Linked DNA regions of Homo sapiens: regions 2 and 3 are each linked to region 1. Evidence: fine-mapped expression QTL. A gene starts in region 1. Each other region holds a variant in brackets. All regions are shown on one strand. Distances are between the middles of the regions.

The links.
Region 2: its variant is fine-mapped to the expression of RCC1 in whole blood (TOPMed, PIP 0.95).
Region 3: its variant is fine-mapped to the expression of RCC1 in whole blood (INTERVAL, PIP 0.96).

What each region holds. Positions count from the first base shown.
Region 1 is chr1:28,501,660-28,512,016 of GRCh38, reverse strand. It overlaps RCC1 (regulator of chromosome condensation 1), which reads right to left and starts at 5,974. Exons shown (of 13, transcript NM_001381865.2): 1 at 5,933-5,974; 2 at 3,857-3,889; 3 at 3,112-3,187. SNHG3 (small nucleolar RNA host gene 3) reads right to left here and starts at 6,074. Exons shown (of 4, transcript NR_036473.1): 1 at 5,933-6,074; 2 at 5,690-5,797; 3 at 3,857-3,889; 4 at 1,125-3,187. SNORA73A (small nucleolar RNA, H/ACA box 73A) reads right to left here and starts at 4,652; the gene lies at 4,446-4,652. SNORA73B (small nucleolar RNA, H/ACA box 73B) reads right to left here and starts at 3,459; the gene lies at 3,255-3,459. RefSeq lists enhancers at 1-226, 1,618-1,837, 1,611-2,376, 3,909-4,674, 4,866-5,160 and 1 more.
Region 2 is chr1:28,467,077-28,477,433 of GRCh38, reverse strand. It overlaps PHACTR4 (phosphatase and actin regulator 4), which reads right to left. Exons shown (of 14, transcript NM_001048183.3): 7 at 3,283-3,880; 8 at 1,143-1,327. Among named protein-coding and RNA genes, the nearest start is that of SNHG3, 34 kb to the left of the region's middle. The variant T/A (reference allele first, on the strand shown) is at 5,055.
Region 3 is chr1:28,568,678-28,579,034 of GRCh38, reverse strand. It overlaps TRNAU1AP (tRNA selenocysteine 1 associated protein 1), which reads right to left. Exons shown (of 9, transcript NM_017846.5): 7 at 7,697-7,859; 8 at 7,135-7,168; 9 at 490-1,535. The coding sequence ends at 1,399. SNHG12 (small nucleolar RNA host gene 12) reads left to right here. Exons shown (of 6, transcript NR_146382.1): 6 at 355-497. It overlaps SNORD99 (small nucleolar RNA, C/D box 99), which reads left to right and starts at 213; the gene lies at 213-292. The variant A/G (reference allele first, on the strand shown) is at 4,956.

The DNA.
Region 1 (10,357 bases):
GGAGGCAAAGACTCCATCTCAAAAAAAAAAAAAAAAAAAAGGATCAGGCTTGAGGCTAGGCGCAGTGGCTTACGCCTGTAATCCCAACACTTTGGGATGCTGAGGCAGGTGGATCACTTGAGGTCAGGAGTTCGAGACCAGCCTGGCTAACATGGTGAAACCCGTCTCTACTAAAAAATGCAAAAAAAATTAGCCGGGCATGGTGGCGTGCGCCTGTAATCCCAGCTACTTGGGAGGCTGAGGTGGGAGAATTGCTGGAACCCGGGAGGTGGAGGTTGCAGCAAGCCAAGATGGCTCCATTGCACTCCCTCCTGGAGACAGAGTGAGATTAGATCTCAAAAAAAAAAAAGCTGGGCATGGTGGCTGACGCCTGTAAACCCAGCACTTTGGGAGGCCGAGGTGGGCGGATCACGAGGTCAGGAGATGGAGACCTTCCTGGCTAACATGGTGAAACCCCTTCTCTACTAAAAATACAAAAAAATTAGCCGGGTGTGGCGGCGTGCACCTGTAGTCCCAGCTGCTGGGGAGGCTGAGCTTGCAGTGAGCTGAGATTGTGCCACTGCACTCCAGCCTGGGCGACAGAGCGAGACTCCCTCTCAAAAAAAAAAAAAAACAAAAAACAAAAAATTGGATACTGTATCCTTGGTTTCTGAGAAGTCACAAAAGAATGTTATTTAATAAGTGATCATGCTGCTGCACTCCATCTAGAGACCCTAAGAATCTTTTCACAAATACCAACTCCTTTGTCCTTATTACAACTCTATGAGGTAGTTTATCACTTATTTTGTGAACATGAAATTGAGGCAGAGGGGCTGAGTAACTCACCCAAAGTCTCATGAACAGCAAGTGGTGGGATCAGGATTCAAACCCAGTCTAGTACTCCTAAGATAGGCAACCAATACTGTCTGCCTACACAAAGAACAAGGCCAGAAGTGCCTGTTTGGAAAGTCTAAAAAAGGGGTATTGCAAGCTGAAGTTTAGCAGAGTGGGACCTGAACACCTACTGACAGCTTTGCTTCACCTCTACCTTGCAAGTCAATAGAAATTCATTCATTTCCTGCCCAGCACTGCAGTTACCCAAACCCACCTGAGTATATGGATTGAAAACATACTAAAACCACTGGTTCAGAAAAAAATCACTTTACTCAGGTGAGATCTATGTAGTTACAGCAGGACACGGATGGGACTGGGCATACAGACGAATGGGGCTGACTCATCTGGCTTCTTCCTGAGCAGGGAATTTGATGCTTGTTTCTGCAGAGGTGCCACTTCTAGTTGTGGACTTGGACAATTAGTCTTTTGGTTCCTGGGATTCCCCATTGGAATATGCTGTATTAAAGCCCACTTAGTGCTTACCTAGAACAGTGCCTGGCACAGGTAAGCACAAATACAATTGCTTTAGGAAGATGCCTTTTTTTTGAGACTTAACTCTGTCACCAGGCTGGAGCGCAGTGGCAAGGTCTCAGCTCAGTACAACCTCCATCTCCCGGGTTCCAGCAATTCTGCCTCAGCCTCCCACAGGTGCACACCACCATGCCCAGTTATTTTGTATTTTTAGTACAGACAGGGTTTCACCGCGTTGGCCAGGATCTCTAGATGTTGTGATCCGCCTGCCTTAGCCTAAGTGCTGGGATTACGGGTGTGAGCCACCAAGCCTGGCTGCATTTAACATGCCCTCTTAAACACTGCCTCACTCCTCTTAGCTTGTAAGAAAAATCAAGCTGTGTTCCCCCACAATCATAGCTAGTAACTAGCTTCCATTCTCAAACCAACCCTGACCTCAACACCTTGGCAAGCAAGCTCTACAGTCCACCAAACTCCAATCTCACCCACCTCCCTCAAACCTGTCTCCATCAAGTTCCAAATGGCTTAACGGCTGTCCCACCTCCCCTATGCCAGTAGGTAACTTTACCTTCTAGATGATCCCCCTTCAGTCCCATCCTTCAGGGTACTGAACATTTATGTTGGCAGCCAGTGCAGGGGGCTTGACAAAGTTTCCATTGTGACTCACGTCATGAGGCAAGCAATTCTGGCAATCTTCAGGCGGAGGTGCGCCAGGTAGTAGAGGCTCATACAACTCATCAGCTAGGGATACAACCTCCCGTTGCTACCATCGATTTTTCCTCCACTACACTGCAGGAAGCTAAAGAATCGGTCTAACTCATCTTGCACTCAACCCAGACTTACGGTCCTATTGGTCAGGACCTAATATCCATTTTCCCAATAAACTGCCAATATAAAGTGAACCCAAGGGGGACCCACCTGAGACTAGGTTTCAGGGCCTTTAGAACTGAAGCTATCATGCTAGTTTCCTTCAACAGTACCATTCAGATTCTTGGCTGATGTCACCACAGCCACCTCCACAAAAATGAACCACAAACATGCAGTCGTATTTATTTTAATTCATAAATACATTAACATAGCAGATTAGGCAATTTGTTAGGTAAATTACAAATACATTAGAAATCATACAAAAGTGGCCGGGCAGGGTGGCTCACAGCTGTAATCCCAGCACTTTAGGAGGCTGAGGTGGGCGGATCACGAGGTCAGGAGTTGAGAACAGCCTGGCCAATATGGTGAAACCTCATCTCTACTAAAAATACAAAAATTAGCCAGGTGTGGTGCTACACGCCTGTAGTCGCAGCTACTTGGGAGGCTGAGGCAGGAGAATCGCCTGAACCTGGGAGGCGGAAGTTGCAGTGAGCAAGATCATGAAAAGCAAAATACTCAAGGACTTTTAATATAACCACCAACACAGTGTGCCTTCTGGCCAAGCAGAGTCACTTCTGTGGTTCTTAAAGTATGAATGAGGTGAAAGAATGTGCATTCCTAGCTAAATGCCAAATTCCAAAGCCTTTAGTACAAAAACAGCAGACTTTCTGCAAAACAGGTCGACTTTTAAAAGAGGTATGAGGGCTGGGCGTGGTGGCTTATGTTTGTAATCCCAGCTACTTGGGAGGCTGAGGTTGCAGCCAAGATTGCGCCACTGCACTACAGCCTGGGCGACAGAGCAAGACTCTCAAAAGGAGGCATGAAATGCACCTCAATCTTTTGCTCCAAGTCTGCCAAAGATTGTCAAACCCTCCCTGTTAAAAAAAAAAATCAGTTTACCTACTCTCCCTTCTATATAAAGGACCCTAAAATTAAATGTCAATGCCAAAATGCGAAGTGCAGATCGTCTTCTCTCCTAAAAGAAAAGAAATAATGATTAGACTCCTGAAGATCCTACTTCAACTTAAAATCTAGTATACTAGATATGTTTCCTGCATGGTTTGTCTCCCCAGTCATTGTCCACAGGACTCTGGGAAGCTGTAGGAATATGCAGGCGCAGACACGAGGCCCAGCTTCATCTTCAACGTTGTGGAAAGGGACTGTACATCATGGGGCAGAGCCCTAAGCTCCCCTATGCCACTTGGACAGAGCCTGGGGAGAGTGACCTCCCAGGGTATCCACGTTGGAATGCTCATTAGTGAGGAATTGGAGTAACCGACAAATCCAATATTGCTAATCACCCACAGTATTTTCAAGGGCTAGTATCTTTCTCAGCTCAGGCTACACATGTAGATAAAGCCAATTAGGCTTCCTACAGTTCACTAGGGCAGCTTTTACTACTTTGCACTTTTAATGAGCTGACTAAAAAAAGCAATTTTTACAGAACAGAGCATATGTTGAAGTTATGTCAACATGCCTACAAAAATGCAGCAAAGTCGATATTTGGCTATTGCTCTGAGAATGATTAAATGCCTCAGAGGTAAATCCTGACCAACTAGAATAAAAGTCTCTTCAATCCTATTTCCATTACAGAAATCATTGACAAAGAGCTGATAAGCAAAAAACAATTAGCAGATTTACTCACCAAATAAGAGTTACTTGGAATCCTTAACAAATCCTGCAAAACAAGATATTAATCTATTAGTACAGCAAAACCCTAAACTTTTTCAACGAGGGGCCTCATGCTATCGCCTGGGGTTGGAGTACAGTGGCACTGGAGTATAGGTTTGAGTATAGGTCACTCCTGGGCTCCAGCGATTCTCCTTCCTCCAGCTACCTATCATCATGCCTGGCTACTTTTTAGCCAATTTTTCTTAAACATGTATTAAGACTTCAATCCAGCCAGGTGTGGTGGCTCACGCCTGTAATCCCAACATTTTGGGAGGCCAGAGGCTGGCGGATCACAAGGTCAGGAGTTTGAGACCAGCCTGACCAACATGGTGAAACCCTGTCTTTACTAAAAATACAAAAATTAGCCTGGCGTGGTGGCGGGGGCCTGTAATCCCAGCTACTCAGGAGGCCAAGGCAGGAGAATCACTTAGCATAATCACTTGAACCCGGGAGGCAGAGGCAATGGAGTGCGCCACTGCACTCCAGCCTGGGCAACAGAGCGACTCCATCTCCAAAAAAAAAAAAAAAAAAAAAGACTTCAATCCAGATTCAGTGCTCTAGAAGGCTGTTTCCTGCATGGTTTGTCTCCCCAGTAATTGTCGACAGGACTCTGGGAAGCTGTAGGAATATGCAGGCGCAGACACGAGGCCCAGCTTTATTTCCAACGTTGTGGAAAGGGACTTGTACATCATGGGGCAGAGCCCTATGCTCCCCTACGCCACTTGGACAGAGCCCGGGGAGAGTGACCTCCCGGGTGTATCCACGTTGGACAATCAGTGTAACGCATAAATTTACAGAATCCAATAGGAAACAATTTCATCCATTCATGTTACTACAGATCTTAAACAAGAAAGCAAACGAGTTTCCACCCTGTCCACAGTGGGGTGTTAAAAAAAAATCGGTTTCTAGACTGGTAACATGCATATTCAGCTATTCTAATTACTTTACAATAGGCGGTTAGTACTATGTGGAAGGTACCGCAGAAGCAAAGACAACAATTAGGCCCAGCTATCCTAAATTCAAATGAAACACGTGGACTTGTTAATTACCCCCAAATCGGCCAGGCACGATGGCTCACGCCTGTAATCCTAAAAATATAAAAATAAAAATGACCCAAATCACAAAAATACGAGAAAGCATAATTACGAAACGCAATGCTTCCAAATTATGAAAATCTTCGGCCTGGCGTGGCGGACCACAAGGTCAGGCGTTGGAGACCAGCCTGGCCAACATGGTGAAATCCCGTCTCTACTAAAAATACAAAAATAAGCCAGGCGCGGTGGTACACGCCTGTAGTCCCAGCTACTCGGGAGGCTGCGGCAGGAGAATTGCTTGAGCCCAGCAGGCGGAGGTTGCAGTGGTGCGATCAAATAAAAAGAAAAATTGAGAAAATTCTTAAAGGCAAATGAGGATCCAGAATAAAACTGTGTGCAATTATATTGAGAACGACAATGTGCCTACTATGAGGCAGTAAGATAAACAGTGGGGGTGGCGGTGCACCTTCAGAGGCTCGCTGGGTCGGGCGGCAGCCCTGCGGGTCCCGAGGTCTCCATGGCCCACTTCTGGCCCAGGCCCGTCTAACGCGTACTTTAGAGTTGGGACCGATGCCGCCTAAGACACCCATATATAGTTTTAAATTACATGATTTCCGGCCAGGCGCGGTGGCTCACGCCTGTAATCCCAGCACTTTGGAAGGCCGAGGGTGGTGGATCACCGGAAATCAGGAGTTCAAAACCAGCCTGACCAACATAGCGAAACCCCGTCTCCACTAAGAATACAAAAATTGGCCGGGCGTGGTGGCACGTGCCTGTAATCCCAGCTGCTGGAGAGGCTGAGGCACGAGAATCGCTTGAACCCGGCAGGCGGAGGTTGCAACGAGCACTGCAGTCCAGCCTGAGTGACAAACCGACTCCGTCTCAAAAAAAAAAAAAAAGTAAATAAATAAAATACTATATGATCTTCCTAGGGAAGCTCGGCTACTGATCTATAGCATTAGACCCACAACTCCGGTGGCAAGCATCTGATCACACTTACCAAGGATCACACTTACCAAGGAGAAGAAGCGACCACTGCGAATCTGTCTCCAAAAAGGAGAGAGAAAACGCGAAGCATCCTTTTTAAACCTTACGAAGTGCCCGGAAGTCCTGGAATGTCTATTGCGCGTGCGCAGAAGCATGCGCAGTTAGAGAATCAGAAACTCACTGAGGCTTCTGGGAATCTACTGCAGATTGAGCCCCACCCCTTCCTGGCTGGGAGGCCTCTCGCGGTAGTGGATCCTTCCCGCGGGACCTTGCTGGGGAATGTACGTTACAGAAATAGGTTTGTAGGTATGTAGCTGCAGAGGACGTTTACTTCTGTGCAATCACTGGACTCAGTCTGTAGGATATGCCCTTAGATAAACTGGCCAAAAAGTTTTTGGAAGAGTCGAACGCGGTGGCTCACGCCTGTGATTACAGCAGCTCTGAAGGCCGTGAGGGGCGGATCGCTTGAGGCCAGGAGTTCGAGACCGGCCTGGGCATCATGGCGAAACCCCGTCTCTACAAAAAATACAGAACATAAGCCAGGCATGGTGCCGCGCACCTCCAGTCCCAGCTACTCGGGAGGCTGAAGCATGAGAATCGTTTGAACCTGGGAGGCGGTGGTTGCAGTGAGCCGAGATCGCGCCGATGCACTCCATCCTGGTCGACAGAGCGAAACTCTCTCTCCAAATAAATAAGTAAAACGTTGGAATAATAAGAATGCAGAATGAAAAAAATACATATAGAGAAATACGGAGTATCAAAAGGAATTGAATCTGCTCTGTCACCTGTGAAAGAAATAATTTGATAAATGTGAAGGTAAATAAGATGAAAGTGCCCCTAGACGAATCAGATAAAAGTTTAAAAACTCCAGGCCTGGCCCGGATAAAAATAAATAAAAATAAAAAATAAAAAACTCCATTGCACAACAGTGTGAATGAATGTAATTAAAAGCACTGCCCTATACTCTTTCTTTTTTTTTCGAGATGGAGTTTTGCTCTGTCACCCAGGCTAGAGTGGAATGGCGCGGTCTCGGCTCACTGCAACCCCGGCCTCCCGGGTTCAAGCGATTCTCCTGCCTCGGCCTCCCCAGTAGCTGGGATTACAGGCGCCCGCCACCGTGCCTGGCTAATTTTTGTATTTTTAGCAAGACGGGGTTTCACCATCTTGGCCAGGCTGGTCTCGAACTCCTGACCTCAAGCAATCCACCCGCCTCGGCCTCCAAAGTGCTGAGATTACAGGCATGAGCCAGCGCACCTGGACTTTTTTTTTTTTTTTTTTTTTGAGACGGAGTCTCGCTCTGTCGCCCAGGCTGGAAGGAAGTGGTGTGATCTCGGCTCACTGCAACCTCCACCTCCCAGGTTCAACCAGTTCTCCTGCCTCAGCCTCCCGAGTAGCTGGGACTATAGGCATGCCACCATGCCCGGCTAATTTTTGTATTTTTAGTAGAGACCGGGTTTCACCATGTTGGCCAGGCTGCTCTCGAACTCCTCACCTCAAGTGATGCCCGCCTTGGCCTCCCAAAGTACTGGGATTACAGGCCTGAGCCACCACACCTGGCCCCCTATACATTTTAAACTAGTTAAAAATGGCAAGTTTTATGTATATTTTACCACACACAAAACCCTCTGAATATGAAGTAGGCAAGTAAAGAATGCTTACGATATATATACATAAGAAATGTTGCAAATATGATGGAATTTTTAGTGTGGTGTAAGGTGGAAAAACGTTGGCTAGAGAGACAGAGCTATCACAGCTGGGCTATCTTGAGTAGTAACGTTTATGGTGTTCCTCCTACATATTAGATTTTGTTCTGAATGCTTTATTACGTACATTATTTACTATCGCAGCAATTCTTTTTTTTTTTTTTTTTGAGATGGAGTCTTGCTCTGTTGCCCAGGCTGGAGTGCAGTGGCTCGATCTTGGCTCACTGCATTCTCTGCCTCCTGGGTTCAAGCAATTCTCCTGCCTCAGCCTCCCGAGTAGCTGGGACTGCAAGCAAGTGTCACCATGCCCCACCAATTTTTGTATTTTCAGTAGAGACGGGGTTTCACCATATTGGCCAGGGTGGTCTTGAACTCCTGACCACGTGATCTGCCCGCCTTGACCTCCCAAAGTGCTGGGATTACAGGCATGAGCCACCGTGCCCGGCCTACAAATTTTTTTTTTTTTTTAGATGAAGTCTCACTCTGTCCCCCAGGCTGGAGTGTAGTGGTGCGATCTCGGCTCACTGCAACCTCCGCCTCTCAGGTTCAAGCAATTCTCCTGCCTCAGCCTCCTGAGTAGCTGGGATTACAGGCGCCCGCCACCATGCCCAGCTAATTTTTGTATTTTTAGTAGAGACGGGTTTTCAGCATGTTGGTCAGGCTGGTCTTGAACCCCTGACCTCATGATCCACCTGCCTCGGCCTCCCAAAGTGCTGGGATTACAGGCTTGAGCCACTGCGCCCGACCCCGGCCTACAAAATTTTAAAAAAAATGTTAGCTGAGTGTAGTGGCACATTCCTGTAATCCTAGCTACTTATGAGGTGTGAGGATCACCTGAGCCCAGGAGATGGAGGCTGCAGTGAGTCGTGATCATGCCACTGCACTCCAGCCTGGGCAACAGAGCAAGAACCTATCTCAAAAAAAAAAAAAAAAAAAAAAAAAAAAGACATTTCTGATGTAGGGTTTGTCGTCCCACTGGAATTGCAAGGTAAGAGAAGAACTTGAGGATACCAGAGTTTCAGGCTTAGGAGGCTGAACATACTATGGTCTCTAACCTTGATAAGTGGAAATGCAGGCAGTGGGGGAGGAGTAATGTCCACATTGGAGTATATACGAGTTACCTGAGTAACATCTGGTTGTATATAAGTCCAAAGAGCAATTAGATATATGGGGTTGGGCTTCCTGTAAGAAATCTGAGTTGGTGATAAAATATTTAGAAGTTGTAAGAATTAGCATGGTGGCTAAAGTCGTCTTGGAAGAATGAGGAGAGTGATGGGAAGACATGAAACCCCAGCATTTATTTTATTTTGAGACAAGATCTCGCTCTGTTGTTGAGGTTGGAATGCAGTGGTGTGATCAGGACTACTGCAGCCTGGACCACCAGGGCTGAAACGATTCTCTCACCTCAGCCTCTTCTGAGTAACGGGAACTAGAGGCATGCACCACCATGCTCAGCTAATTTTTTAAATTTTTGGTAGAGATGGCCTCTCACTATACTGCCCGGGCTGGTCTTGAACTCCTGGCCTGAAGCGATCTGCCAATCTTGGCCTCCGAAAGTGCTGGGATCACAGGCATGAGCCACCACACCCGGTAAAACACAGCATTCATTTATTTTATTTTATTCATTTATTTTTGGATGGAGTCTCACTCTTGTCACCCAGGCTGGAGTGCAGTGTTGTGATCTTGGCTCACTGCAACCTCTGCCTCCCGGGTTCAAGCAATTCTCGTGCCTCAGCCTCCCAAGTACCTGGGACTACAGGCACATGCCACCACACCCAGCTAATTTTTTTGTAGTTTTAGTAGAGATGGGGTTTCACCATGTTGGCCAGGTTGGTCTCGAACTCCTGACCTCAGGTGAACCACCTGCCTCGGCCTCCCAAAGTACTGGGATTACAGGCGTGAACCATCGCACCTGGCCGAAAACCCAGCATTTAAATGGTGTTCGAGGAAGAAGCCAGCAGCACAGAGAAAGGTCAGTCAGGGAAGGAGAACCAGAAGACAGCGGTGCCTCAGAAGCCAAGGAAGAAGAGTTTTGAGGACTAGAACATTGTCCAAAGCACCAAATGTTGCAAAGCAGCCAAGTGCAATAACCGAAGGCTGAGAAATCCCTGGTGACCACAGGAAAGCCATATTGGTTTGGATTTCGTTTAGATTTTAATGAGCTGAGTGAATATGGCCTTAGGTAGGGAAAACAATGTGCACAGACCAGAGGTTATGAAGCAAGGCCAAGAAGCCTGTTCAGTTTACATCTCCATCACTAGTTCTTCCTCTGTCAATCATTTAGCCCAGCTGCCTGGCCTGAGAACTTGGGTTGTTTAACATTGGAATAGATTGTGTGAAGGGAGTATAGGAAAAGCAGGAGAGAGGGTAATAGATTGAAGAGAAATTGGGGTCACGGGAAGATTGTGTCTTTGTTGCGGGTGAGGGTAGGAAGGAGGTAAGCATTAAATAATTTATTTAATGCTCCCCCTCCCACAATCCTCACTGAGGACTGTGTGTCCTCAGTGCCAAATGAAGGAACATTAAAGCTGTTTGTTCCTGTCAGATGACCTCTATGCTCTACATAGGAGGCAAAATTCTTTGGGGAAGAAATTAACAATATCCACACAAAATGACAGATGGAGCAAGAGGTCTGGGTTGCTGGTCATTCCTGGTTTTCCCTTCATGCCTCCTAGGGCTGAAATGGAATAGAACGTTGAAACAGTGGTGCTGGCTGTATTTTGGCTTCAAGGATAGGATTTTCTTTGTTGC
Region 2 (10,357 bases), 35 kb after region 1:
TGGGAGGTCAAGGCAGGGGGATCACATGAGGTCAGGAGTTCAATAACAGCCTGGGCAGCTGGGCACAGTGGCTCACACCTATAATCTCAGCACTGTGGGAGGTGGGCGGATCACGAGGTCGAGTTCGAGACCAGCCTGGCCAACACAGTGAAGCGCCGCCTCTACTAAAAATAAAAAAAAATTAGCTGGGCCTAGTGGCAGACGCCTGTAATCCCAGCTACTTGGGAGGCTGAGGCAGGAGAATTGCTTGAACCCGGGAGGTGGAGGTTGCAGTGAGTTGAGATCGTGCCCCTGCACTCCAGTCTGGATGACAGAGCAAGACTCTGTCTAAAAAAAAAAAAAAAATTATATATATATCTTTTATGGCCAGGCACGGTGGCTGACACCTATAATCCCAGCACTTTGGGAGGCCGAGGCAGGCAGATCACCTGAGGTCGGGAGTTTGAGACCAGTCTGACCAACATGGTGAAGCCCCATCTCTACTAAAAATACAAAATTAGCCAGGTGTGGTGGCACATGCCTGTAATCCCAGCTACTTGGGAGGCTGAGACAGGAGAATTGCTTGAACCTGGGAGGTGGAGGTTAAACTGAGCCGAGATCGCACCATTGCACTCCAGCCTGGGCAACAAGAGCAAAACTCCGTCTCAAAAAAAAAAAAAAAGAACAGGCTAGGCAACCTAACGAGACCCTGTCTCTACAAAAACAAAAAACAAAACAAAAAATCAAAGAAACCTAACCAGTTGTGGCACACATCTGTCCTAGCTATTTGGGAGGTTGAGGCGTAAGGATCACTTAAGTCCAGGAGTTGGAGGCTACAGTGAGCGACGATTGCACCACTGTACTCCAGCTGGGTGACAGATCAAAACCTTGTCCAAAAAAAAAAAAAAAAATTAAAACAAAAAAAAACAAAAAACCTAAAACCTGAGTGACTCAATCTACTTGGATCCCTGTCTTGGCTTGTTTTAACAGAGGGGTGATAATAGGGACAAGGAGTCCTTCACAGTGGCTTCCAACATCAGTTAGCCAGATGACTTAATGGGAGAAGGTACCTGTTTCCATATCTCTTTTGACACTTGCTAAGATCAGCAAATAGTTTTATCTGGAAAAGAATTCTCTGTTTTGCTTTTCCCTCCCTTTCTTACTCTGATAGCTTTCATCTTCATCTTCTTCATCTCGGTACTGAATGGGACCTTCTGAATCAGAGTCGCTCTCCTTCTCTTCTTCCTCCCGTAGACACTGTGGTAATTTAGGAATGACTGAGGTAGGTGTCATTTCTTCACTGAATGTGGATGGACAGGTTTGCTCCTCTTCTTCTTCATCGTCTGGACTAACAAATTAACATAATTATATTTTCCTTTTAGAAATGAAGAGGATAACTGACTTTTAAGACAAAGGACTGAAATAAAGACTGGGCGTGGTGGCTCATGGCTGTAATCCCAGCACTTTGGGAGATGGAGGTGGGCAAATTCACCTGAGGTCAGGAGTTTGAGACCAGCCTGGCCAACATGGTGAAACCCTGTGTCTACTAAAAATACAAAAATTAGCCTGGCATGGTGGCAGGTGCCTGTAATCCCAGCTACTTGAGAGGCTGAGGCAGGAGAATCTCTTGAACCCAGGAGGCAGAGGTTGAAGTGAACCGAGATTGTGCCACTACATTCCAGCCTGGGTGACAAGAGTGAGATTCTATCTCAAAAAAAAAAAAAAGACAAAGGACTGAAATAACCATAAATACAAAAAAATCTATGGATGAAGTAACTTATAATTAATTCTCTCCCTTAACTTTAACAATCTTACTAAGAAACTTTTTAGCAGGTATTAATCTAAGGGTTCAGATCCCAGCTTTACCACTTATTAGGCACTGGTGCTTTCCAGAATTTGTCTAATGTCATTCTCACAAGCCTACAGAGTAAATATTATTCCCATTTAGAGATGATATAACTAAAGAGCAGAAGGCTTCAGTAACTTAACACTACTATAAGCTAAGAGTGGTAGTGCTGCAATTTGAACCCAGGGCTATCTCACTCCAAGGTGAATGCTCTTAAGCACAACATTATACAATGCCTTCCCTGTAGTATATAAAACTAGCGGTTGTAATTTTTCATGTACATAATTTTGTAAATTTTGTGTCATCACAAAAATCTCCATGAAAAAAAAAAAATCACAAGAGTAAAAAATCAAAATTTGGCCAGGCGCAGTGGCTCACACCCATGATCCCAGCATTCTGGGAGGTTGAGGCAGGCAGACTGCTTGAGCCCAGGAGTTCAGGGTGAGCCTGGGCAACATGGCAAAATCCCATCTCTAACAAAAAATATAAAAATTAGCTGGGTGTGATGGCATGCGCCTGTAGTCACAGTTACTCGGGAGGCTGAGGAGGGAGAATTGCTTGAGCCCAGGAGATGGAGGTTGCAGTGAGCCAAGACTGCACCACTGACTCCAGCTTGAGTGAGAGAGTGAGAACCTGTCTCAAACATAAATAAATAAATAAATAAATAAAAATAAAGTTTTAAGGTAAGATTAAAAAAAGAAAGAGTCCAAATTCTATAACTTATTCTTTTGGCAGAGTATTCTTTGTACTTTAAATTTATTCACAATGCTGGGCGCGGTGGCTCACACTTGCAATCCCAGCACTTTGTGAGACCGATGCAGGTGGATCACCTGAGGTCAGGAGTTCGAGACCAGCCTGGCCAACATGTTGAAACCCCATCTCCACTAAAAATACAAAAATCAGCCGAATGTGGTGGCACATGCCTGTAGTCTCAGCTACTCGGGAGGCTGAGGCAGGAGAATCGCTTGAACCTGGGCGGCAGAGGTTACAGTGAGCGGAGATCGTGCCACTGCACTCCAGCCCGGGTGACAGAGCAGGACTCCATCTCGGAAAAAAAAAAATTATTCACATTTTCTTTTTTTCTGTGAGACAGAGACTCGCTTTGTCGCCCAGGCTGGAGTACAGTGGCACAGTCTTGGCTCACTGCAACCTCCACCTCCCTGTTAAAGCGATTCTCCTGCCTCAGCCTCCCGAGTAGCTGGGATTACAGGTATGTGCCACCACGCCTGGCCAATTTTTGTTATTTTCATCGAGACAGGGTTTTACTGTATTGGCCAGGCTGGTCTTGAACTCCTGACCTCAGGTGATCGGTCCATTTGCCTCAGCTTCCCAAAGTGCTGGGCTTACAGGTGTGGGCCACTAGGCCCGGCCCACATTTTCTTTTTATAAGTAATTTTTTCCAAGCAGGGCTATCTAGAGTAAAGGAGAAATAAGAGGCAAGCTTTAAAGGCACTTACACTTTTAGCATTTCAATAGTGATGGGAAGAGACCTGGTCCGACCCAGCGTACTGCTGTCCTCAGAAAAGCTGTCACTGTTTTCAAAAAGCAACGAATGAGCTCTGTGAGAACCCTCCAGAATAGGAGTCATGGGAAGTGGGCTGGTGAGGGCCTGCTGGATTCGAATATGCAGTGGGAGTGGAGGCAGCCTAGAGGGTATATGGGGCTCCCCAAAGTTCTGGTCCAGTATCCTCTTGGGGACTTCCTTTTTCTGATCTTCCTGCTGGGGAATCTCCTGGTGTAGATCTAAGGATGGTGGAAACTCAATTTCTGGCACAACTTGAAAAGTCTTAGCAGGGAATGGAGGGGTGCGTGGAGGCTCTGGAGGTATATGAGTAGGCAGTGGGGGGGACGGAGAGCGAGGTGAGATCATTGGTAGTAGTTCCGAGCCCATAGAACACGTGCTCTTCTCTCTTTCATCACTTGGTGTTTTTGTGGTGATGGCAGCAGCAGACTCCAAGGTGGGTACTGAGGTTGATGGAATGCCTCTCTTAGGTGGTAAGGGTGGGGACGGTTTTGATAACAATGTACCACTGTTTATTGCTTGGGACAGTTCAGCTGGAAAAGAGAGAGCAACACATCAATTTCACGACTTTCCAATGCTTTGAAGGGCCGGCCCAGGGCCTAGAATTAAAGTTGAGTTCAGTTTTAATCTTTTAAGCAAGTTAAATAATTTCATAGTTTTGCCATTCCCTATATATTTTATCCTGAAATGAAGTTTATATTTATTCAAATAGAAGGCTTAATAAATGTACAGAGGTGTAGGAAGACTGATGAGTAGCTTACTTCATTGCTATGGCAACAGATATGACAATTTTTTTTTTTTTTTTTTTTTTGAGACAGGGTCTCACTCTCTCGCCCAGACTGGAGTGCAGTGGCGCGATCTTGGCTTACCGCAACCTCTGCCTCCCGGGCTCAAGCGATACTCCTGCCTCAGTCTACCAAGTAGCTGAGATTACAGGCGCACGCCACTACGGCCCGGCTAATTTTTGTATTTTTAGTAGAGGCGGGCTTTCACCATGTTGGCCAGGCTGGTCTCGAACTCCTGACCTCAAATGATCCACCTGCCTTGGCCTCTCAAAGTGTTGGGATTACAGGCGTGAGCCATGGCACCCGGCTGACAACTTTTTGTAACTTGATCTTGGTGTAGTTAATATGAATAGAGACAAAAAAAATCTGATAAAAAGTTATCTTGTGGCTGGCACGGTGGCTCACACCTGTAATCCCAATACTTTGGGAGGCCGAGGTGGGCAGATTACTTAGGTCAGGAGTTCGAGACCAGCCTGGCCAACATGGTGAAACCCCGTCTCTACTAAAAAAAAAAAAAAAAAATTACAAAAATTAGCTAGGTGTGGTGGTGGGCACCTATAATCCCAGCTACTCAGGAGAGGCTGAGGCACGAGAATCTCTTGAACCTGGGAGGCGGAGGCTGCAGTGAGTCAAGGTCATGCCACTGCACTCCAGGCTGGACAGCACAAGACTCTGACTCAAAAAAAAAAAAGTTATTTTGTATAACAGTACTCCATTAAAAAATTTAAACATTCAGATAGCATAAAATAAGTATTAGTGGGTATTGTTACCATATCCTGATAATGGTATCTAGATATCTTAGCTCTGTGTTATAAAACTGTCAATACTGACATCTTGAATTTTTATAGCAATTGCAAAGTCCTTTGAAGAAATCAAAGTGTTTTTTGTCCTTGAAGTCATATTCTCCTTATACCACCTGAGG[T/A]GACAGGGGAAAAAATATAGCATCTTTACCATTTTTCAGAAGGAAAAGGCAAGGCCACAGAAGCTAGGTGACTTTGCCCAAGATCATACTACAAACTGGCATGGACTCAGCTGGTATCCAAGTCTCTGACTATTTGACTGCATCCTACTGTCTCTAATTTTTTTTTTTTTTTGAGACGGAGTCTTGTCGCCCAGGCTGGAGTGCAGTGGTGCCATCTCGGCTCACTGCAAGCTCTGCCTCCCGGGTTCACACCATTCGCCTGCCTCAGCCTCCCAAGTAGCTGGGACTACAGGCGCCCACCACCACTCCCGGCTAATTTTTTGTGTATTTTTAGTAAAGACGGGGTTTCATCATGTTAGCCAGGATGGTCTCAATCTCCTGACCTCGTGATCCGCCCGCCTCGGCCTCCCAAAGTGCTGGGATTACAGTCGTGAGCCACCGCGCCCGGCCTACTGTCTCTAATTTTTATTGGTATGCACACCTCTTATGTTCCCTTTGCACCTCAGCTTCCCATGTTCACTCTCCACTATATCATGGGCTCCTTGATGGCAGGGCAACCTTGTCTCCATCAACATATCATCCACAGGGCTGTGCACAGTACCTGGCATCTAGTGGACCCTCAATATATGTTTATTAGATGAGAAGCCTTCACCCTGTATCATGACAGTATATATTCCTATAGTTTCACCAAAGCCCACAATGACTCAGCAAAGGTGTTGGTGTTGTTTCAGCAAAGTCCCTTTGGAGGGCTCCAGATGACCTGTAAGAAGTGGATCATCAGATCACACAGGAGTAAAACTGGTAAAGTAATTAAAGGGTAGTTATTTTTTCCCTGCTGACAGGAAAAAAAAAAAAAAAGTAGTTCTTTTGATCACCAACCTCTAACCTTCTACTCAAACCCTTTAGTTTCATCCCACTCAGTATTCTCAAACACTCTCAAAAACTTCCCTTAAATAAAACTGTATTTGTCCTAAATCTCCAAAATTGGAGATGTTCAAAGTAAAAGGCTAGCTAATTATTTTTTTCTTTTTTGAGATGGAGTTTCACTCGTTGCCCAGGCTGGAGTGCAATGGCGCCATCTCGGCTAACTGCAACCTCCACCTCCTGGGTTCAAGTGATTCTCCTACCTCAGCCTCCTGAGTAGCTGGGATTACAGGCATGTGCCACCACGCCCGGCTAATTTTTTGTATTTTTAGTAGAGATGGGGTTTCTCCATGTTGGTCAGGCTGGTCTTGAACTCCCGACCTCAGGTGATCCACCCGCCTCGGCCTCCCAAAGTGCTGGGATTACAGGCATGTCCGCTTTGCCCGGCCAAGGCTAGCTAATTTTATAATTCTTTTTTTTTTTTTCTTTTGAGACAAGGTCTCCCTCTGTTGCCCAGACTGGAGTGCAGTGGCATGAACAATAGCTCACTGCAGCCTCGATCTCCTGGGTTCAAGTGATCCTCTTGCTACAGCCTCCCAAGTAGCTAGGACTACAGGCCCATGCCCCCATGCCTGACTAATTTTTTTAATTTTTAGTAGAGACAAGGTCTCACTATGCTGCCCAGGCTGGTCTTGAGGTCCTGGGCTCCAGTGATACACCTATCTCAGCCTCCCAAAGTGCTGGGATTATGGATGTGAGCCACCACACCCAGCCTCTTTTCTTTTTAAATTTATTTTTATTTTTAAATTAAATTAATTTATTTTAGACAGGGTCTCACACTGTGTCACTGGAGTGCAGTGGCGCAGTCACGGCTCACTGCAATTTTGACCTCCCTGGGCTCAGGTGATCCTCCCACCTCAGCCTCCCAAGTAGCTGGGACCATAGGCATGTGCCACCATGCCCGGCTAATTTTTGGGGGGGGTATTTTTTGTAGAGATGGGTTTCTCCATGTTGCCTAGGCTGGTCTCAAACTCCTGGGCTCAGGTAATCTACCTGCCTCAGCCTCCCAAAGTGTTGGTACTACAGGTGTGAGCCACTGTACCTAGCCTTTTCTTTTTTTTTAGAGACAGGATGTTGCTCTGTTACCCAGGCTAGAGTGCAGTGGTGCAATCATAACTCACTGCAGCCTTGAACTCCTGTGCTTACCCAATCCTCTTACCTCAATCTCCCAAGTAGCTAGAATTACAGGCACATGTCACCATGCCCAGCTAATTTTTAAATATTTTATAGAGATGGGGTCTTGCTACGTTGCTCAGGCTGGTCTTGAACTCCTGGCCTCAAGTGATCTTCCCACCTCGGCCTCCCCAAATGCTGGGATTATAGGCATTGAGCCACTGTGCCTGGCCTAATTTTGTAATGTTTTAATGTCTCTCATCATAAATAATTTTTTTTTTTTTGAGACAGAGTCTCGCTCTGTTGCCTAGGTTGGAGTACAGTGGTGCAATTTTGGCTCACTGCAACCGCCACTTCCCGGGTTCAAGTGATTCTCTCCTGCCTCAGCCTCCTGAGTAGCTGGGATTATAGGCATGCACCATCATACCCAGATCATTTTTTGTATTTTTAGTAGAGATGGGGTTTCACCATGTTGCCCAGGCTGGTCTCAAACTCTGGGCCTCAAGCGATCTGCCCACCTCGGCCTCCCGAAGTGCTGGGATTACAGGCATGAGCCACCATGCCTGGCCCCATAAATAAATTTTAAAAAAGGCTTTCTAGAAAAACACTGCATACACACACAAAAAGATTCTAAAAATGTGAATTTTAGGAGCAGTGAAAGAGATATTTTTGGAAAGATTGGATTTTTGCTGATTCTCTAAAAATAGCTGTTAGCTATTCCATCTACAACAAAACTCATTCCTGATGAGACCATAAATGAATATTTTTACTTTTGAATTAATAAAATAAATTCTATTTGGTAATTTGAGGAAGGCATATATGTTAAGGAAGTAAATTCTGGTATATATACCCTGACAACAGCATCTGGCTGTAGTTCTGTGGAAAAATTTCAGAGTGTTTCTGGGATGGGTAATAATTCCCTTTCACCCGTTCAGCTATTGCTGGTGGTTTTTCCTTAGTCGTAATACTCCATGTTATATGGATGAGAAGACAGTAGTACTTCTGAAGCAATGATTTCCAAACTTTTGGATTTCAGTGACCAAAACAATAACAAAAATCTTGATCAACCTCAGATTGTTGGTTTTTTTTCTAGTGTTTTTTTGAGGTTGTCATTTTCTAAGATTTCCAAATAAGGCTTGATATTAAGTAAACCATTTATGATCATAATCCTTTTGTGAAAGAAATGGCATTTTAACACCAAAGGATTAGGAAGGTTGTAATTTTAGAATAAAAGAGAGTCCTTTAAATTAAATCTATTTAGCTCTAAGAAATGCTCTGTGAACTGTTCTATTTTTCTTCTTTTGTTGAGGACCCCTCATGGACTAATACTGATTCCTCAGTTACAAGGTCTATTGTTTTGGGCTATTTACCTCAAGCTAAGAATGAGCTCTGCAGTTTAGTCCAGGGTATCATACACAAATTATCATTTTATATGTTGCCTTAACTTGAAAAGGGTGGTATGCCACTGGTGTAGAGCAGAGGCTCTTAATGTGTGCTCCCTGGAGAGCAGCATCAGTGTCATCTGGGAACCTATTAGAAAGGCAAATTCTCAAGCCCATCCCAGGCTTACTAAAATCAGAAACTCTACGGGTAGTGTCCAGCAGTCTGTTATCATAAGCTTTCTAGGTGATCCTGAGGAGAACACCAGTTTGCAAACACTACTGTAAGGAACAGAGGTCTGGACCTGAGAGTTGAAAAGCCTATGTTCAGTTTCTATCTTTCACTAACTACAACCTTCTTCTTTTTTTTTGAGATGGAGTTTTGCTCTTGTTGCTCAGGCTGCAATGCAGTGGCACAATCTCAGCTCACTGCAACGTCTGCTTCCCACGTGCAAGCAATTCTCCTGCTTCAGCCTCCCGAGTAGCTGGGATTACAGGTGCCTACCACCATGCCCGGCTAATTTTTTGTATTTTTAGTAGAGATGGCGTTTCACCATGTTGGCCAGGCTGGTCTTGAACTCCTGACCTCAGGTGATCCACCCGCCTCTGCCTCCCAAAGTGCTGGGATTACAGGCATGAGCCACTGCGCCTGGCCTACAACCTTGAATGAGTCACAATGTCTTCATGTTCTAATTGCCCTACCTATGGAAAAGATAAAATTGGTTTCCTGCAGCACAAGGTAGTTTTGAAAATAAGTATGTGAAAGCTCCCCAAGTTCCTCACAGATAAGTCAACATGACACTATCCATCCAAAGTGGTGGTAATAACAACTTCATCCTGTTTTCATCAAGCTACTCCAAACTGTCATACTCATAAAATATTCTAAGCCTGTTTTTCAAGGTTTGAATCACTCCACCCAACATGGTGATATTAAATATTTAATGAGTATAGTTTTTATTCATTCGTTCAATCGTGAACAAGAACTTTAAGCAATACTAAGCCTAGTATCATTTTTCCTGAAAAAACTATATTTTTATTAGCTTTGAAGCACTCATTAGCTTTCCTCTCCCTTTCTTGAAAATTCTTCTAAGAAATTGTGCATTTATATAAAGAAAGTAGACTTAAATAGAACTTTGGGTAAATGCAAAAAATTTACTAAACCCATACAAATTTTACTGATTATATTCCCTGCTTTCTCTACCATCACTTATTTTAACATAAGAATAGCATTCTTAATTCTCCCAAGATAAAACATGATTTTATCAGAACAATTTAAGTAATAGCTTCTGCAGTTCCCTGTGAAGATAACTATGCCAGACACTGAATCCCAAATTCCACTGGCATCTACAGAATCATCCTTTTATCTACTAGACTCATTAATGCTTATGGAAGGCATAGGTAGTTTTAAGTAGATTTAAAAATTTTCATTTGAAAAGTTTGCCTTGCCCCTTGTGAGCTGAGGCATTATTCTAATTTTTCAGCAAGTGCCACAGATAATTCCATGCAGGTGGAATCTGTTATGGTTTTCACATATCCAGTCCAATTACACACACACACACACACACACACACACACACACACACAAATATGTATAGTGTTTTGGAATCATTGTTTTAGAAAAACAGATTAAATATTAGATTAAAAAATAGGTTAAAACCCCCAAAACTTAAATCTAATCTTAGTGATGTTTACATTTATGGCCATCTGCCTCAGTTTCATGACTTTTTTTGTTTGTTTGTTTTTGTTTTTTTGAGACGGAGTCTCTCTCTGTCGCCTAGGCTGGGGTGCATTGGCACAATCTTGGCTCACTGCAACCTCCGCCTCCTGGGTTCAAGCAATTCTCTTGCCTCAGCCTCCCAAGTAGCTGGGACTACAGGCACGTGCCAC
Region 3 (10,357 bases), 67 kb before region 1:
GGGCAAAGATGGTTAGAACATGATTTACCCACCCTAAAATGCATTGAAGGCATCAGAGGGCACCGTGGGCCACAAGGCCTGGTAGCCACAAATGTTCAGTGGTGGCTGGAGCTCATGATGCATTCTTTGGTGGGACGTCTCTCAGCATTAGGGAGAGTTGAGAGTGGGGTAGAAACAAGGGGTTCCATGTAGCACACACTGTATTTAGAATGACTGGTCCAGGATGAAACCTAATTTGAGTGGACATCCATGGATGAGAAATGCGGATATGGGACTGAGACCAGCTCCTAGGAAAATGTCTGGGTGGGGGAAATCTGGGAATTAGTAACACAATGGCTTACACTTCCTTTGCAGGACAATCTCTATGGGAAGCAGAAGGCAAGGACCCCGGTCATTTTAGGTAGAAACAACAGCATGCTAATGCAAAAAATTATGCAGTGTGCTACTGAACTTCAGAGGTGATCAATAAAAGAAGAATAAAAAGACTAATAAAAGTATATTTGTGTTTGTATTTTTTTGTAGAGACCGAACTGGTCTCTTCCCGAGCTCAAGCAATCCATCTCCCAAAGTGAGCCACCATGCCCAGCCCTTAAAGAGATCTTTGGAGATTTTTTATGATGTAGGATGAATGCTTTGCCTCAAGCAGTAAGTCCCAACACATGACAAGGTTGGACAGTTTCCCCATTTACTTGGGAAACACGGAAGTGAGCAGTATAAAGTTCACACGGAGGGTCTGCTTTGGCTTTGAGCTATCTTCCTTAATCCTTTCTGAGCTGCCTTCTCCCGTGTCAAAATATTGATCCTAAAGTGATCCAGGCCTTGTATATGCAGATGCTGCAACTCATGAAAATAGATGAAACCCATTATTAGAGCAAGTACTAATTCTTAGGCCAACTGGCCTGTTCCATCACACCCCACCACATTCTACCTTCTGGGGCGTGCTCCTACCACACCTGCTAGAGTGCCTTTTCTACCTAGCTGCCAGACTTGCACCAAGTTAGGACTCAAATATGGCAGGTCCTACAAATACTCCAGAGAACCCTGATTTACATACCTACCTGTCAACTGAGAAACCTTGAACTCAGGCTTTAGTGTGTGAATTATCCCAAGCTGCTCATCCCAGTTTTGGATAATCCCAAACTGTCCTATGTGGATAACTACCTGGACAAAGGATTCCTGTGAAGGAAACCAATTTGAACCTTGTTTAAAAGTTGTTCCCTTGGTCTTCAAACTCAAATGGTCAAATGAATGCAGCAGTGTTGTAGAAACATTCATGATCTCCAAAAACAGTCATTATTAAAATCTTACAAATCATATTTCCAAAAAGGTTTCACAATTTTTAAAAAGGAGTCTCTCATCTCCCTCACATCATGCAACCTGGCTTGTCCTTTGGCCTGGCTACATCATGGCAGGGATCTCTGAAGACACTGTGTCCAGGGGCTGCCAGTGACAGTCCATCAGAGCGTCATACAGCTCCTCACTCTGTTCCATGAACTCCTTGTTGGCCTCAGTCACATCCAGCTGTGGCATGGGGTCTGGAAAGCAAGCAAGGATGGGGTCAGGGAAGTCTAGGGACAGCTGCAAGGGACCTGGTTCAGTTCCCTTCTCCCAGAACTCTGTTCTATGGTAAGGTCCCTATCCTGCCAGTTTCTTTCAGGAAGTGAAAGCACTGCCTTGCAGGGTTCTGGGGAAGATGAAAATAGAATAATGTATCTAGAGAATGGGAAAATGGCAGCTGTTAGCCTGCATCTATTAAAAGCTACACCTGTGTCTCTAGCCATCATGTATCCTAGATTTTCTGGTCTGGTCCTCACTTCAAATTTGGGTTTAGAAGGTCTGATCAAAGTTATTAAGTCCAGAGCATCATCTCAAGAACTGACAATAAGTGCATAGTGGAAGAACTTCAGTCAAATATAGGAGCTGAAAGGCCAAGTCCTGTATGTATGTATGTGTGTGTGTATGTACTTTAGAGAAAGGGTCTTGCTCTGTCACACAGGCTAGAGTACAGTGGCACACTTACAGCTCACAGCAGCCTTGAACTCTTAGGTTAAAGTGATCCTCCCGCCTTAGCCTCCCAAAGTACTGAGATTACAGGCATGAGTCCCTGTCCCTGGTGGTAAAATACTATTAAAAATTTTTTCTGCACAGTGGCTCATGCCCATAATCCCAGCACTTCAGCAGGTCGAGGCGGGCAGATCACCAGAAGTCGGGAGTTCAAGACCAGCCTGACCAACATGGAGAAATCCCATCTCTACTAAAAATACAAAATGAGCCGGGCATGGTGGCACATGCCTATAATCCCAACTACTCGGGAGGCTGAGGCAGGAGAATTGCTTGAACCCAGGAGGTGGAGGTTGCGGTGAGCCGAGATGGCACCACTGCATTCCAGCCTGGGCAACAAGAGCAAAACCCCGTCTCGGCCGGGCGCGGTGGCTCACGCCTGTAATCCCAGCACTTTGGGAGGCCAAGGCAGGCAGATCACAAGGTCAAGAGATCGAGACCATCCTGGCCAACATGGTGAAACCCCGTCTCCACTAAAAATAGAAAAATTAGCTGGGCGTGGTGGCAGGCACCTGTAGTCCCAGCTACTCGGGAGGCTGAGGCAGGAGAATCGCTTGAACCCGGGAGGCGGAGGTTGCAGTGAGCCGAGATCACGCCATTGCACTCCAGCCTGGGCAACAGAGCAAGATGCCATCTCAAAAAAAAAAAAAAAATTAGCTGGGCATGGTGACCTGTGTCTGTAGTGCCAGCTACTAGGGAGGCTGAGGCAGGAGGATCACTTGAGCCTAGGAGGTCGAGGCTGCAGTGAGGCATGTTCACATCACTGATCTCAAGTCTGGGCAACAAAGTGAGACTCTGTCTCAAAAAAAAAAAAAAACTGGGCACTGTGGCTCATGCCTGTAAACCCAGCACTTTGGGAGGCCGAGGTGGGCAGATCACAAGGTCAAGGGATTGAGACCATCCTGGGCAACATGGTGAAACCCTGTCTCTACTCAAATACAAAAAATTAGCCGGGTATGGCAGTGCACGCCTGTAGTCCCAGCTACTCGGGAGGCTGAGGCAGGAGAATCACCTGAACCCGGGAGGCAGAGGTTGCAGTGAACAGAGATGGCACCACTGCACTCCAGCCTGGCGACAGAGCAAAGACTCTATCTCAAAAAAAAAAAAAAAAAAAAAAGCCAGGCGCAGTGGCTCAAGCCTGTAATCCCAGCACTTTGGGAGGCCAAGGTGGGCGGACCACCTGAGGTCAGAAGTTTGAGACCAGCCTGACCAACATAGAAACCCCATCTTTATGGGGTTAGAAAAATAGAAATAGAAAATTAGCTGGGCATGCGAGATTGCGCCACTGCACTCCAGCCTGGGCGACAGAGCAAGACTCCGTCTCAAAAAAAGAAAAAAAGAAAATTAGCTGGGCATGATGGCGCATGCCTGTAATCCCAGCTACTCGGGAGGCTGAGGCAGAAGAATCACTTGAACCCGGGAGGCGGAGGTTGCAGTGAGCTGAGATCGCGCCACTGCACTCCAGCCTGGGCAACAAGAGTGAGACACCGTCTCAAAAAAAAAAAAAACAAAAAAAAACATTGGGCCTGGCGCAGTGGTTCACACCTGTAATCCCAGCATTGGGAGGCAGAGGCGGGCGGATCATGAGGTCAAAAGATAGAGACCATCATGGCCAACATGGTGAAACCCCATCTTTACTAAAAATACAAAAATTAGCTGGGCGTGGTGGCGCGCATCTGTAGTCCCAGCTATTCAGGAGGATGAGGCAGGGGAATCGCTTGAACCTGTGAGGCAGAGGTTACAGTGGGTCGAGATCGTGCCACTGAACTCCAGCCTGGTGACAGAGCAAGACTCTCAAGAAAAAGAAAACAAAAAAAGGATTAAAAAGAGATTGGAAAATTCTAAGGACTTATCTACAGATATTATGAGGCTAATTATCTCTAGAAAGAAGGCAATGTCTCCCAGGGGGAAACAACTAGAGACTTGAATATAAAAAGACCGGACTGTCCTGACTTTGCCCCACACTGTGTGACCCTCAGCAGATCACTTGGGCTTTCCGAGCCACTAGTTTCCCATCTGTGAAATGGAGCTCCTGTGTCCTTCCCAGCCCACCCCACAAGGTCACTACAGTTGGCATCACATGAGAGGACACAAGAAAGTGCTTTAAAATGTTATGAACTAGACAAGTTTGTTCATGCCCTAAAAGGGATCTGTTTCCTTTAACGAACATTTTCTTGACAGAAAACATTTTCCCTATGACTTTCTCTTGAAGACGAATCCTCAAAACAGATTTCAAACTTTGAGTCTTTTTGTACCTCAAAAAAAGTTTTGGCCAGGAGCAGTGGCTCATGCCTATAATGCCAGCACTTTGGAAGGCCGAGATGGGCAGATCACTTGAACCTAGGAGTTCAAGACCAGCCTGGGCAACATGGTGAAACCCTGCCTCTACAAAAAAATAGAAAAAAATAGCCAGTTATGGTGGGGCACAACTGTAGTCACAGCTCACTGAAGCCTCAACCTCCTGGGCCCAAGCAATCCTCCTGCCTCAGCCTCCCCCAAGTAGCTGGAACCACAGGCCACCATGCTTGGCTTTCAGTTTTTCTTTCCTTTTTCTTCTGTGAAATTCAGTGAAAATTATAAATACTTGGCCGGGCACAGTGGCTCATGCCTGTAATCAAAGCACTTTGGGAGGCTGAGGCGGGAGGATTACTTGAGGTAAGGAGTTCGAAACCAGCCTGGCCAACATGCTGAAACCCTGTCTCTACTAAAAATACAAAAATTAGCCGAGCGTGGTGGTGCATGCCTGTAATCCCAGCTACTCAGGAGGCTGAGGCAGGAGAATCACTTGAACCTGGGAGGCAGAGGTTGCAATGAGCTGAGATTGGAGACTGCACCACTGCACTCCAGCCTGGGTGACAGAGCAAGACTCCGTCTCCCAAAAAAAAAAAAAAAAA[A/G]AGAGATGGGGTCTCGTTATGTTGCCCAGGCTGGTCTCAAAGTTCTAGGCTCAAGCCATCCTCCAACCCACGTTGGCCTTCCAAAGACCTTACAGGCTTTAGCCACCGTGCCTAGACAGTAAATACTGTTGTTTTTTTTTTTGAGACGGAGTTTCACTCTCGTCACCCAGGATGGACTGCAATGGAGCATTCTTGGCTCACCGAAACCTCCATCTCCCGGGTTCAAGTGAGTCTCCTGCTTCAGCCTCCCAAGGAGCTGGAATTACAGGCATGGGCCACCATGCCTGGATAATTTTTTTTTTTTTTTGAGACAGAGTCTTGCACTGTTGCCCAGGCTGGAGTACAGTGGTATGATCTCGACTCACTGCAACTTCCGCCTCCCGGGTTCAAGTGATTCTCCTGCCTCAGCCTCCTGAGGAGGTGAGATTATAGGCGCGCAACACCACGCCTGGCTAATTTTTTTATTTTTAGTACCGGCAGAATTTCACCATGTTGGCCAGGCTGGTCTAGAACTTCCGACCTTAGGTGATCCTCCCGCCGTGGCTTCCCAAAGTGCTGGGAGTACAGGGGTGAGCCACCGCGCCTGGCAATTTTTTTATTTTTAGTAGAGACGGGGTTTCACCATGTTGGCCAAGATGGTCTCGATCTCTTAACCTCATGATTCACCCTCCTTGGCCTCCCAAAGGGCTGGGATTACAGGGGTGAGCCACCGTGCAAGGCTTAAATATTTTTAATTAAAAAATTAATAATGGGCTGGGCACGGTGGCTCACCCCTGTAATCCCAGCACTTTGGGAGGCGAGGCAGGCGGATCACGAGGTCGAGTTTGAGACTAGCCTGGCCAAGATGGTGAAACCCCGTCTCTACTAAGAATACAAAAATTAGCTGGGCGTGGTGGCATGTGCCTGAAATCCCAGCTCTTCGGGAGGCTGAGGCAGGAGAATCACTTGCACCCGGGAGGCGGGCTTGCAGTGAGATGAGATTGCGCCACTGCATTCCAGTCTGGGTGACACAGCAAGACTCTGCCTCAAAAAAAAAAAAAAAAGAAAAAGAAAAAATTAATAATGGCTATTACTATGTTGTAATAGGATATGGGGTGATTTTCAGTTTCATTATACTTTACTATATTTTCTTTTTCTTTTTTTTTGAGACGGAGTCTCGCTCTGTCTCCCAGGCTGGAGCCCATTGGTGCGATCTCGGCTCACTGCAAGCTCTGCCTCCCGGGTTCACGCCATTCTCCTGCCTCAGCCTCCCGAGTAGCTGGGACTACAGGCGCCCATCACCACACCCGGCTAATTTTTTCTATTTTTTAGTAGAGACGGGGTTTCACCGTGTTAGCCAGGATGGTCTCGATTTCCTGACCTCACAATCCACCTGCCTCGGCCTCCCAAAGTGCTGGGATTAGAGGCGTGAGCCACCATGCCTGGCCCATACTTTACTATATTTTCCAAATTTTCCATCCTAACGATGACTTAAAAATCAGGAAAATATGTCTTTTAAAATATATTGAAAAACAGAAAAAAAATAAAATAAATAAAAAATGAATTTTACAAACAGTCAAACAAATAAAAGGTAACAGTATTATCGGCCAGGCACAGTGGCTCATGCCTGTAATCCCAGCACTTTGGGAGGCTGAGGCGGGCGGATCACCTAAGGCTGAGAGTTTGAGACCGGCCAAGCCAACATGGAGAAACCCTGTCTCTACTAAAAATACAAAATAATTAGCTGGGCATGGTGGTGCATGCCCGTAATCCCAGCTACTCGGGAGGCTGAGGCAGGAGAATTGCTTGAACCTGGCAGGTGGAGGTTGCGGTGAACTGAGATCATGCCATTGCACTCCAGCCTGGCCAACAAGAGTGAAACTCCACCACACACACACACAAAAAAAGGGTAACAGTATTATCGTTAGAGGCCCACATACCAGGATAGAATGCCACATGTCAAGGGGGTGATGGGCTCTCCTGGAGCTGCCTGTCCCAGGCTCTCTGGGATCTACACTTACACCTCTGGGTAACACCCGACACATCTTACCATAATTACATATTTGTCTGGCTCTCTAACCAGAATGTAAGTTCTTCCAGAGCAGAATTTATCTTGTCTTCCCTCTAGCTGAGAGCACAGTGCCAGCCACAGCAGTCACCTGATAATGGCTGACAGAGTAAGGAACGTATGAACCCTTACCTTCCAATGCATCATCTCCAACTTCTTCATATGTCTGCCAAGAGACCAGAGATGTGGGTTAGGGGCATGGTGAAATCCTGGCCCAGGACCACAGTGGCTTATATTTTTTATTTTTTTTGAGGTGGAGTCTAGCTCTGTCACCCAGACTAGAGTGTAGTGGCGTGATCTCGGCTCACTGCAACACCCGCATCCCAGTTTCAAGAGATTCTCCTGCCTCAGTCTCCTGAGCAGCTGGGATTATAGGCGCCTGCCACTATGCCCAGCTAATTTTTTGTATTTTTAGTAGATACAGGGTTTCACCATGTTGGCCAGGCTGGTTTTGAACTCCTGACCTCAGGTGATCTACCTGCCTCGGCCTCTCAAAGTGCTAGGATTACAGGTGTGAGCCACTGGGCCCTACCCACAATGGCTTATTTTTAACAAGAGGAACTGGACTGCTTCAACTTTCCCTATTTTTTCTGAAGCCCAAGCCCCTGTCCTTACCAATCCCATCCTAGAGAATGACCTGTTTCTAGAGGAGAAACACAACCCAAGGGGACCAGTCTTGCCAAGTCATGGTTACCTGCATGGTGCTCTGGGTATAGCCATACTGGGGGTAACTGTAGCTGTAGCTGCCTGTGTTCTGGTCATAGCCCCACTGAGCATAGTAGTTCTGGTACTGCTGATAATACTGGTTGTAGCTATAACTGTACATCTGACTATATTCCACTGGCTTTACACGGCTCCTTAAATGAAGACAGAAACAAAAATAAGTGTAAGCAAACATTTCCGTAACACTGCCTATGTGGCCACAGACTATTTTAAGTGCTTTATACCGATTAACTTTTTTTTTTCTTGAGACAGAGTCTTGCTCTGTTGCCTAGGCTGGAGTACAGGGGCGCAATCTCGGCTCACTGCAACCTGCGCCTCCCGGGTTCAAGCGATTCTCCTGCCTCAGCCTCCTGAGTAGCTGGGACTACAGGTGTGTGCCACCACGCCTGGCTAATTTTTTGTATTTTCAGTAGAGACAGGGTTTCACCATGTTAGCCAGGCTGGTCTCGATCTCCTGACCTCGTGATCCGCCTGCCTCAGCCTCCCAAAGTGCTGGGAGCCCGGCCACCAATTAACTCTTTTAATCCTCAAAACAACCATATGCAATAAGTGTATCATTATTCCTATTTTACAGATAAGGAAACTGAGGAACAGAGAGGTTAAGTAATTTGTCCAAAGTCACACAGCTAATATGAGAGTATGGCTCCAGAGACCATGCTTTTAATACAGGAGATTTTAATGGATAGGTTTGTCTCTCTTAACAAACTATGTCAGGACTGGCAAAAGGATATCCTGTTTAAAAAAAAAAACAAAACAAAAAAGGGCTGGGTGCGGTGGCTCACACCTGTAATCCCAACACTTTGGGAGGCGAAGGCAGGTGGGTCACCTGAGGTCAGGAGTTCCAAGACTAGCCTGGACAACATGGTGAAACCCCATCTCTACTAAAAATACAAAAAATTAGCTGGGTGGGATGGCGCGCCCGCAATCCCAGCTGCTTGTGAAGCTGAGGCAGGAGAATCGCTTGAACCTGGGAGACAGAGGTTGCAATGGGCCTAGATTGTGCCACTGGACTCCAGTCTGGGCAATAAAAGTGAAACTCTGTTTCAAAAAAAAAAGAAAAGAGACAGACGTGGTAGCTCACGCCTATAATCCCAGCCACTTGGGAGGCTAAGGAAGGAGAATCGCTTGATCCTGGGAGGCCCAGCTAATTTTTGTACTTTTAGCAGAGATGAGGTTTCACCATGTTGGCCAGGGTGGTCTTGAACTCCTGGCTTCAAGTGATCCACCCAACTCAGCCTCCCAAAGTGTTGGGATTACAGGCGTGAGCCACAGCACCCCGCCTTTTGTTTTCGTTTTTTTTGTTGTTGTTTTGAGAGAGTCTTGCTCTGTCGCCCAGGCTGGAGTGCAGTGGCGCGATCTCGGCTCACTGCAACCTCCGCCTCCTGGGTTCATGCCATTCTCCTGCCTCAGTCTCCCGAGTAGCTGGGACTATAGGCGCCCACCAGCACGCCCGGCTAATTTTTTTTTTTTTTTTTTTTGGTATTTTTAGTAGAGACGGGGTTTCACCATGTTAGCCAGGATGGTCTCAATCTCCTGACCTTGTGATCTGCCCGCCTCGGCCTCCCAAAGTGCTGGGATTACAGGCGTGAGCCACTGCACCTGGCCTTTTTTTTTTTTTGAGATGGAGTCTCACACTGTCACCCAGGCTGGAGTGCAGTGGCACAATCTTGGCTCACTGCAAGCTCTGCCTCCTGGGTTCATGCCATTCTCCGGTCTCAGCCTCTCTGAGTAGCTGGGATTACAGGTGCCCGCCACCACACCTGGCTAATTTTTTGTATTTTTAGTAGAGACGGGGTTTCACCATGTTAGCAAGGATGGTCTCGATCTCCTGACCTTGTGATCCACCCACCTCGGCCTCCCAAAGTGCTGGGATTACAGGCATGAGCCACCACGCCCAGCCTATTTTGTTTTTTAAGAGACACGGTCTCACTCTGTTGCCTGGGCTAGAGTGCAGTGGAGTTATCATAGCTCATTGTAACCTTGAACTCCTAGGCTCAATCAATTCTCCCACTTCAGCCACCAGAGCAGCTGGGACTAGAGGAGTACACCAAGCCCAGCTAATTTAATGTTTTTATATAATAATTTATTTACAACAAATAACATTTTTGGGAGAAGTCACTAAGCCTGATCTTCAATGTATTAAACACAGTTAAACCATAAAGAACCCCTAAATCATTGCTTTCAAAAACATGGCTATTTGGCTGGGCGCAGTGGCTCACGCCTGTAATCCCAGCACTTTGAGAGGCCAAGGCAGGCAGATCACCTGAGGTCAGAAGTTCAAGACCAGCCTGATCAACATGTGAAACCCTGTCTCTACTAAAAATACAAAAATTAGCTGGGCTTGGTGGCACATGCCTGTAGTCCCAGCTACTCGGGAGGCTGAGGCAGGAGAATCGCTTGAACCTGGGAGGTGGAAGCTGAAGTGAGTCAAGATCACGCCACTGCATTCCAGCATGGGCAAAAGAGCAAGACACCATCTCAAAAAAAAAAAAAAAATAGTTCAACTACTCTTAGGGTAGAGTTTCTCAGCCCTGGATCTATTGACGTGGAGGGGTGGGTGGCTGTCCGATGAATTGCATGATGTTTAACAGTATCCTTGGCCGATACCCACTAGGTGCCATTAGTACATCCT